2 linked regions of the Homo sapiens genome follow. The protein of the gene in region 1 purifies or fractionates together with the protein of each later gene. This does not show direct contact. Each region holds a gene or a part of one and is shown on either strand. Other genes may lie near its edges.

Region 1 (5,146 bases):
TCCGTCTCAAAAAAAAAAAAATTAACTGGTCCTGGTGGCATGCACCTGTAGTCCCAGCTACTTGGGAGGCTGAGATGGGAAGATCACTTGAGCCCAGGAGGTGGAGGCTGCAGTGAGCCAAGATTGCACCACAGCACTCCTGCCTGGGCAACAGAGGAGGACTCTGTCTCAAAAAAACCCAAAACGATTAAGACGGTAAATTTCATGTGTATTTTTCCACTATTAAAATAAAAAAACAGGCCAGGCGCAGTGGCTCATACCTGTAATCCCAGCACTTTAGGAGGTCAAGGTGGGCAAATCACCTGAGGTCCCGAGCTCAAGACCAGCCTGGCCAACATGGTAAAACCCCGTCTCTACCAAAAATACAGAAATTAGCTGAGCGTGGTGGCGCACGCTTGTAATTCCAGCTACTTGGGAGGCTGAGGCATGAGAATCACTTGAACCTGGGAGGTGAGGCTGCAGAGCCAGCCACCGCACTCCAGCCTGGGTGAAAGAGCCAGACTCCATCTCAAAACAATAAAAAATAAAAAAAGTAAAAAAGTAAAAAAAAAATCTCTCAACATAAATTATCTCTGCAAGACAAAGGGCAAGAAGAAAATAGATACATAAACTAAATAAAGTACATACTAAACAGACCTTCAGATAATTTCTTACTTCTGTATTCAGACATTCTGCAGAGAAAAGAGTTGGTGGTTAAAAAAAAAAAAACTTATGGAAAACTAAGTGGTCAATTTCTGAAATCACTGGTTCATAAATAAGTGGGGATCCTGACAACAGCATCTCTTTATCAGGTTAACAGTAGTTTGTTAAATTCGAAACAAATCTATTCTACAAGGATTTACAACTATAGACAACTGCTTGAAGTAAGGGTCTCTTCTCAGATATTAAAATTTTCAGAACAGATAAAAGCACAGAAGACCTAATGTGTTGAAATGAATGACTAAATTTTGCCCCCACCACATCCATACCAAAAGCTACTGAAACAATATACTATGCCGTAAGGCTAAATTTTACCTGCTACCAATGTCTTCAATAGAAGAGATTCCATGGAACTGACAGGAGAAAGCAGTGCTGATTCCAGCATGTTCAATGCTGTAGCACTGAAAGACTTCAGCAGCTCTGGGTTATCCTCAGTCACTGTCTGCAAACAATATGCTACGAGGCAAAAAATAAGTATTTAGAAACAAATGAATTCTGCTTTGGATAATTTACACCAGTATAACTCATCAATAAAACATTGTATCATTACCACTTCATTAGACACATGTAGGTTTTGCAAAATATATATGCTTTATCTCAGGGTGATATGCGCAAATGAGGCTTCCCAAACTATCAGTGCTGGAAAAGATCATGTTTCTTTTCTTTTTAAATTTCTAATCCTGTACAGATCTATACTTTTTTTTTTTTTTTTTGAGACAGTCTTGCTCTGTCACCCAGGCTGGAATGCAGTGGCGCATCTCAGCTCACTACAACCTCTGCCTCCCAGGTTCAAACGATTCCTGTGCCTCAGTCTCTCAGGTAACTGGAATTAAAGGTATGCGCCATGATGCCTGGCTAATTTCTATATTTTTAGTAGAGACAGGGTTTCACCATGAAAGCCAGGCTGGTCTGGAACTCCTGGTCTCAAGTGATCTGTCCGTTTCGGCCCTTCAAAGTGCTGGGATTACAGGCATGAGCCACCATGCCCAGCCAGATCTACACTTTTTACAAAATACAATTAAAAAGACTCTTTTATTTTTTTTTTGAGATGGAGTCTCGCTCTGTCGCCCAGGCTAGAGTGCAGTGGCACAATCTTGGCTCACTGCAAGCTCCGCCTCCTGGGTTCACACCATTCTCCTGCCTCAGGCTCCCGAGTAGCTGGGACTACAGGCACCCGCCACCATGCTTGGCTAATTTGTTGTATTTTTAGTAGAGATGGGGCTTCACCTTGTCAGCCAGGATGGTCTCGATCTCCTGACCTTGTGATCCGCCCGCCTCAGCCTCCCAAAGTGCTGGGATTACAGGTGTGAGCTACCACGCCCAGCCTAAAAAGACTCTTAAATGCGGCAATGTCGTTACTATAAATGTTTATAAAAGTTTATCCTCAGGCCGGGTGCGGTGGCTCATGCCCGTAATCCCAGCACTTTGGGAGGCTGAGGCAGGAGGATCACTTGAGGTCAGGAGTTGCAGACCAGCCTGGCCAGCATGGCAAAACCCCATCTCTACTGAAAACACAAAAATTAGCTAGGCATGGTGATGCACGCCTGTAATCCCAGCTACTTGGGAGGCTGAGGCAAGAGGATAGCTTGAACCCGGGAGGCGGAGGTTGTAGTAAGTCGAGATTGCGCCACTGCACTCCAGCCTGGGTGACAGAGCTGAGACTCCATCTCAAAAAAAAAAAAAAAATTTTACCCTCAATTTATGTACTTATCAAGGACCAGTAGCAAACAGCCTTAGGTTTTGGGACGTCTGGCTTCCTTTAAATTTATCATGACCTTCAAAGTTAGGGTTATTTCTGGCAGAGCAATAGCTCTTTAAGAAAAAAAGTAGTTTATATAAAAGTATGAGCAAATTAAGAGATGTGTAAAATATTAAATCATGCCCATCAAAATTACTCAAAATGCATGCTACTGCTGTGGTTGATGATACATTTATATGGAAATCCACATATATGCATTTCTGTACATATATCCAAATGTAATATCTTTGTCATTAAGAAACTAATTAAATTTACTTTAGCCAACAGCCATGACTGCTACCATACAGGTTCAAAAAAAGTTATATGAATACATGGGATGGAATCTTATAAGTTCATTTTACTATATGTAAGCATTGCTTGACTTTAGAAGCAAAAGTAATAATGTATTTTAAAAAATCATTAATCTAGCTACATGGAGAAGGAAAACACTATTATACAATGCAAAATGACTATTCTAATCCATTTCAAAAACGCTCATTAAGGGGAAGAAAAACTAAAAACAGAAATAAATCTATAAGACTAAAGGCACAAAAATAGAAGTGATTTTTCTTGTAAAAGATATGAACTAACTTTCCTGAAGTTCTCTTATTGTAACAAAAACTGTCCTCTGAGATTAAGTCACCTATCAATTTCCTAAAAATGGCTGAATCGTTTTTAAAATCCCCATTTACTCACAACTCTCCAGCCCCACCAAGATTCCATTTAGAGAAATGATTTTTAAAATTTTCTCAGTAGTATTTATTCTACTATTTTCCCTCAATTCTGTTCTCTTAAAAATATCCATTAGAGTCAAGAAAAACAGCAGTCAGGGGAATACACTTCTTCCTCCCCAGGAGAAATGCAGTTCCACAAAGGGACAGCTGGATGCCCGCAGTAATGATCGGTAGAAAAGAAATGCTCTCCCTCAATTGTTTCTCCACTCCCACCCAGAATTCTGCTGAGTTGCCTATGCTCTGACTTCTGCCTCCTGCCACTGAGCTGAGGGTCCCCAGTGGTTCCCCAGCCCAATAAAGAGAAGGCGAGGCAGCCAAAGCCACTGAAGTTGCTGGACTTTGCCTTCCCTGTCTCATGGAAGGCATGAAGGCCTAAGTGGAATTTCAATCATTTCTTTTCCTCTTTTTCTCTCAACAAAACTCAGGCCGTCAGTTTTCTGCTGGACGTATGAGATAGTAGCACAATACATTTAAATAAGTTTAGATTCCAATTAACTGGCTTAAAGGCCTGGTAGTTGTGCGTTACTGTTTCTTAGTAAATGGAGATGAAAACTTCAAGAATTAATAAAGGCTGCTAAGAATGGAAACAGGCTAGAAACCACATATCCTCACATAATTACCTTTCTCCCTTTCAGAGTCAAAAGCAGAAAAACTGAATGAGTAGGTAAAGAATTAATATTAATCACAGATTTAAGACCCAGAAAAAACAGGTGCTGAGCTACACATTCACATACAACGAAACAAAAAATCACTCCAGTGGAATAAACACGCCAAAGCTGCATAAAAATTTTTGAATAAGGCTACACATTCTTAATAAGTCATCACCTTTTCTTCACTTACCTACTGAAATAGCCAGGTCAACATTGGTAGGAAACCTACTTAAATACTTTAACACAATCTCCAAACACCCTTCTTTGTTGAATATAGACACTGCTCTACTACTGCATTCACTAAATTGAAGGGGGAAAAAAAAGTTTTACTATTCACATTTTAACAGTAGGAAATCAACCATAGCAATCCATAAAAAAACAAACGAGGCTTTATAAACCAAGGAGTTGGAATCAAACACCCACCATTTTTATCGATGAAGGAACTAACACCCATTCACATTCACTGTACATGAGAACTGGCTATCTATATTTTATTTCTATCACAATGGGACCTTTTCATCAATCTCTTTGCCATGATGCCAGTTTCCTTATAGAAGGTTAGAGCTGGAAGAGATCTTGTAAATCGTTTAATTCAACTCCCCATTTTATAAATGTGAAGACCCAGGCCCCAAGTGGTAAAGTGGCCCATCAAAGAGCACACATTTTGTTAGTGGTAGAGCCAGGCCCAGTACCTAGGTTCCCTGGGTCCAGGCTACTGTTTTTTCTTTCCTCCATACCACAATGATAACAAGTTAAAGGAGGATAAAAGGCCTCTATATTTATCACACAAAAACACAAATTTATTTTTTATTTTTTAACCTACTATATTTTAGAACATTAACAAAAACACACATTTAAAGGAAAATAAAATTATATTTTATTCAAGCCTTTTAGAGTGCAATTATAATTTCATCAAGCAGAATTTGCAGTCTACAATAGAGAAATTACAATAAGTATTTTTTAAATTATACTACCTTTTAATAAAAGACTCAGCTTTCAGTGTTATGAATAAGCAAACACATTAAATACGAGTTAACAAGGCTAATTGTAATAATTGTATCCATGTTTCCAGAGGAAATATCCATGTTGTACATGTTTCCTCCATACATATAACATACACACATGACACGCTAACAGAGCTGACTAAATTATTAAACTAAATCTGTTATGTAATGAAAAATATTTCATATCTTCTATCTACCTACCTACCTACCTATCTAGTTATGGCAGCATGAAGGAGCCCACAGTCTAGTCAGGAAGACAAGGCATATATGTGTAAAGATAATTTGAAATATAAATGATGAAACAAAAATGTTAAAAGTTAT
Region 2 (4,769 bases), on another chromosome or scaffold:
ATTGTTAACATTTTGTTCTATTTGCTTTATCACTCTCTTCTCTTTTCCCTAAACTTTTTAAAAGTCACAGGCACACCATTTTACTCCTAAACACTTCAGGATATGACTTCCTAAGAGCAAAGATATTTACTTACATATCACAGAACAATTTTAAAAATCAGGAAATTTAATACTGAAAATACACAATTATCTAATTTGTATATTAGATAACAGACCTCGAATGTTGCCAATTCTCCCAATAACATCCTTTTTAGCAACTTTTTTCTGGTCTAGGATCTAATCTAAGATCATACTACACATTTTGTTTGCATGACTCTTTAATCTATTAATCTGGAACAGATAGTTTCTCAGCCTTTGTCTTTTATGACACTAACACTTTTGTAAAGTAGAAGTCAGCTGTTTCACAGAATGTCTCTCAATTGGGGTATGCCTGATATTTTATCCTGCTCAGTGCATCACACCAGGAGTACAGCGTTTCACTAAGTCCCATTACTAGCAATACTAAACTTGATCACTTGGGTAATGGGATGTTTCTTCACTGTAAAGTTATTTCTTACTTTGTGATTAATAAATAATGTATGAGGAGATACTTTTAGATTATGTAAATACCCTATTCCTCATAAAACATTCACTCACTAGTTTTAGCTAGTGATGACTCTTGCCTGAATCAATTATGGTGATGTGTGCAAAATGATTTGTATAACTCTTTCATTCTCGCAAATTTATTAACTGACATTCTATGGTATGCAGAAGCTTTTCTTTACACCCTATGTATTTACATATTTATTGAGTATGTATTCTTATTTAATTCAATAGGTTTATAATCCATTTTATTTTGATATTCAATAGCACCAGATACAGTAAGTGGGAGCTCCTTCAAGCTGATTCACATGTCCTTCTGACATATCCCCACCATTTGTCTGAGCACTTCCTTGGCTTTCTGATATATGATGTTCCATTTTGTACTCTCCCTGTACCACCCCTTAAATCAGTCATTTCTCTAAGCGCTGAGTCTTTTCAGGAGATGCTTTTTAGAAACAAATATCTGGGTCTCAAGATGTGTTCATTGCTAATGACATACCAATTCTTCTGGGCCTTTTCAGCAGAAACAACTAGAAGATATATTTTTATCAGTTCTATTTTTAAAAATTATATCCAACTTAAGAAAAACAATACATTTTCCACTACGGCATTTGGGCAACACATATTTTACAGAAATAGCCACACAAAAATCTATGTAGTGAAATGCTTGTAATTATTGGTTAATTTTTCGTTTTAAACATTGTACAAATTTTTGTTCTACTACACAGTAGGCTAGTGATATAAATTTTTCAATTTTATAAAAACAAAGCACAAATAAAACTGTAATTTAACCATTTAAGATATACAAGTCAAAGCTAGAAGAGCCTCTTTTCTGACATAAAATAAACAGGATTTAACAAAGACCAAGAATAATTAATATTTGAAAAATAATACAGGGGGCTTTAAGCCTTTTTTTCTCCTAAGACTATAAAATATACTAAAATTAAATTAGCAAGTTAATCAGAGGAGAGAAATTAATATGGGAGGAGAGATATTAAATGAATTAATTTTAAAATACTAATTCCTTTGACTTCCTTCACTCCCATATCTACTGGAATTTTCCAAGGATGTACAAATCCTTGAAAACAACTACTCTATCATTTCCACTTAACAAAAAGAAGTAGTTGGGTCATAATTTTGTGTGGAAAAAGAGAAAGTGGGCTATTCATATGGACCTATACAAATCCTTGGATGCTTGGACATTACTGCACATCTGATCTAGACAGGCTGATAATAAGCAAGTCAAATGGACAGAATATACTCTAAAAGTTTTGGTTTTTTTTTGGGGGGGGGGTGGTTCCTCAATCTGTTCCTCAGGTTATTAAATTTTATCACAGACTTAAGTAATCATTTACCTAACCAGCATTTATTAAATATCTACTTTATTTCCAGAGCTGAGCTAGGTGTTCCCTCCCCTCCTCTTTGGCCTTATTAGCAAGTCCTTCAGTGCTTCTTTTTACTCACTCTACCACCTCTTCTGCTTCACTCCACCTGTTCCCTGCCCTCTGTAAGCCTCACAGTATAGTATAACATTTCAGCCACCCTCTTGGAAGAATCCTCAGGATATTTCTGCATGATAAGATTAAATGTTAAACTTTTTCTAAGAACACCTGCTCTTCAGGTATACCACTTTGTAAATTGCCAATATGAAAGGCTAGCTAAGAATTTCCCAGCAACATTAGATGTCTGAAGCTCTCACACCACTAATTACACTCTCCTATCTTTAATCTCTCTTTCAGTCTATAAAAGTGCTCACATATCTTGCATATTAAAAAAAAGAAGCTTCTAGAAGAAAAGCTTTTCTTCCCATTTATTCAACTCACTGTAACACTGTAATCTGGTTGTTTTTATTTTATTTTTATTTTTATTTTTTTCGAGGTGGAGTCTTGCTCTGTCGCCCAGGCTGGAGTGCAGTGGTGCGATCTCGGCTCAGTGCAACCTCCGCCTCCTGGGTTCAAGCGATTCTTCTGCCTCAGACTCCCAAGTAGCTGGGACTACAGGCACACGCCACCACACCCAGATAATTTTTGTATTTTTAGCAGAGACGGGGTTTCACCATATTGGCCAGGCTGGTCTCGAACTCCTGACCTCGTGATCGCCTGCCTCGGCCTCCCAAAGTGCTGGGATTACAGGCATGAGCCACTGAGCCTGGTCTGCAATCTAGTTGTTATCCTGGAACTTCTCCCTCTTCCTCACTCAAACAAGTTATTTATTCATGGTTACTCTTTCCTGTGTTCCTCTATTATTCCTCACTCCAACTGCTTGTATGTCCTAACTCATCTCCTTGCCTCTAATCTCTTCTTCAAATGCTCCCTTTTCCCACCTATCTCTTTACACGCTGCTGCCAAAATACTCTTTATAAAACCCAAATATCATATTTCTCCCACGCTTAAAACAAATCTATGACTTCTTAGTGCCTAAAAATTAAAACCCAAGTCTTCATCATAGAATAGAAAGTCGCATATTATCTCACCCGTCCACCTGTTGTTATGGAACTCTTCATACCCCTTGAGCCACCCACACTGTTTTGTACCATAAGCTCCAATTTTTATGAATGATATATAAATCTCAAAACCCTGATGTTGACCACAAATGTCCTGTGCTCATCCTGCTCCATCCTCTGGAATCCTCAGGGTCCACTCCTGACTCTTATCTGTCAAGGTATAGCTCAATATCACTTCCTCTTTTAAGCGTTCCTGACTCATATGAGTAGAGCCCATCAGTCCTTTCACAAGACCACACTGTGTGTGTTTACCTCTATTACAGCATGTCACACTTTAATGTAATTAATTGTTAACATCTGTTTTCCACTCTAAACCGTGAGTTCCTTGAAGTCAATAGTTGCTTTTATCCATCACTATATTCCCTATGCCTATCATTCCTAATAGGTGTTCAATAAATATTGTTGAATAAGTGAAATTAAAAAGTAGAATGCAAAATTTTTTTTGAATGATAAAAATAAAAATAAAAAGCAGAATGGAAAGTGAGATTATAATCTCATACAGATAACATAAACCTGACTATTAAACATCCTTACCTGGTAACTAACTATTTTCTTTCCATCGCCTCTAGTCTGAGGTAAGGTCAAAGGCCCAGATACCACCCAAACATCTTCAAACCTTTCTGTCAGCTCTCGACAGTACATTTCTATTCTGAAAAACAAATAAAAAAATGTATGATATTCTCACATATATACATGTAAGACAGCAGCAAATCATATCAATTCCTATGAAAGATACCAAGAAAAACTGCATTTGAGAAATTAAACAAGAACATGGCACAAAACATTATAAGCATATAAACAATTATTTTCCCAGTTTGCTTACTGCACAGAAAAAACTTAAAAATCACATACACTAACAAAACTATCTACATTTTTCTTTATGTGCGCTCAGAGTACATTCTGGAATTCAAATTTCATGAACTTAAAACTTTTTTTATGCCATAGTTCCCAACCAGCTTTCAAGAATTATGTATCATTCCAACAAGATGATATACTTTATTTAACCATTCCTCTTGCAGGACAATTGGGCTTATGTTAACATTTCTTATATAATGCAACGTTGTATCAATTCCTTAGGATAAATTTCAAGGACCAGAATTACTGAATGAATTTATTTTAAAGACTCGTCATCATATGTAAAACTAACATTTTTAATAGGGTTATATCAATTTACTCTATAAGCTTTTAATAGGGTTATATCAATTTACTCTAAAAAATTAAAATACAACACAGCAGTTTCACAACAATCTTTATAATGCTGGGATTTATCATTTAAAATCTGTTTTTGTCAACTTACCAGATAAAAATGGCAAGTATTTTTTTTTTCTTTTTTTTAGATGGAGTCTCACTCTGTCACCCAGGCTGCAGTGCAATGGTGCAATCTCAGCTCACTGCAACCTCTGCCTCCCGGGTTCAAGTGATTCTCCTGCCTCAACCTCCCGAGTAGCTGGGATTACAGGTGCCCAAATGGCAAGTAGTTGTAATATGTACTTTCATATACATATGAAAGTATGTATATGACTGCAGTTGGAAGTTTTTTTTTTTTTTCTTTTGAGACGGAGTCTCACTCACTCTGTCACCCAGGCTCAGCTCACTGCAACCTCCATCTCCTGGGTTTAAGCGATTCTCCTGCCTCAGCCTCCCGAGTAGCTGGGATTTTAGGTGTGTGCCACCACACTCGGCT

What was found. The genes of interacting proteins can lie anywhere in the genome.
Region 2: the proteins of HEATR3 (region 1) and EXOG purify together in Homo sapiens (co-immunoprecipitation; 2 studies listed by BioGRID and IntAct, with this or other methods). This does not show direct contact.

What each region holds. Positions count from the first base shown.
Region 1 is NC_000016.10:50,071,580-50,076,725, reverse strand, and holds part of HEATR3 (HEAT repeat-containing protein 3), read right to left. Parts: intron 4,122-5,146; coding exon 4,012-4,121; intron 1,156-4,011; coding exon 1,015-1,155; intron 1-1,014. UniProt on the Homo sapiens protein: Plays a role in ribosome biogenesis and in nuclear import of the 60S ribosomal protein L5/large ribosomal subunit protein uL18 (RPL5). Required for proper erythrocyte maturation.
Region 2 is NC_000003.12:38,505,819-38,510,587, reverse strand, and holds part of EXOG (nuclease EXOG, mitochondrial isoform 1 precursor), read right to left. Parts: intron 3,735-4,769; coding exon 3,620-3,734; intron 1-3,619. UniProt on the Homo sapiens protein: Endo/exonuclease with nicking activity towards supercoiled DNA, a preference for single-stranded DNA and 5'-3' exonuclease activity.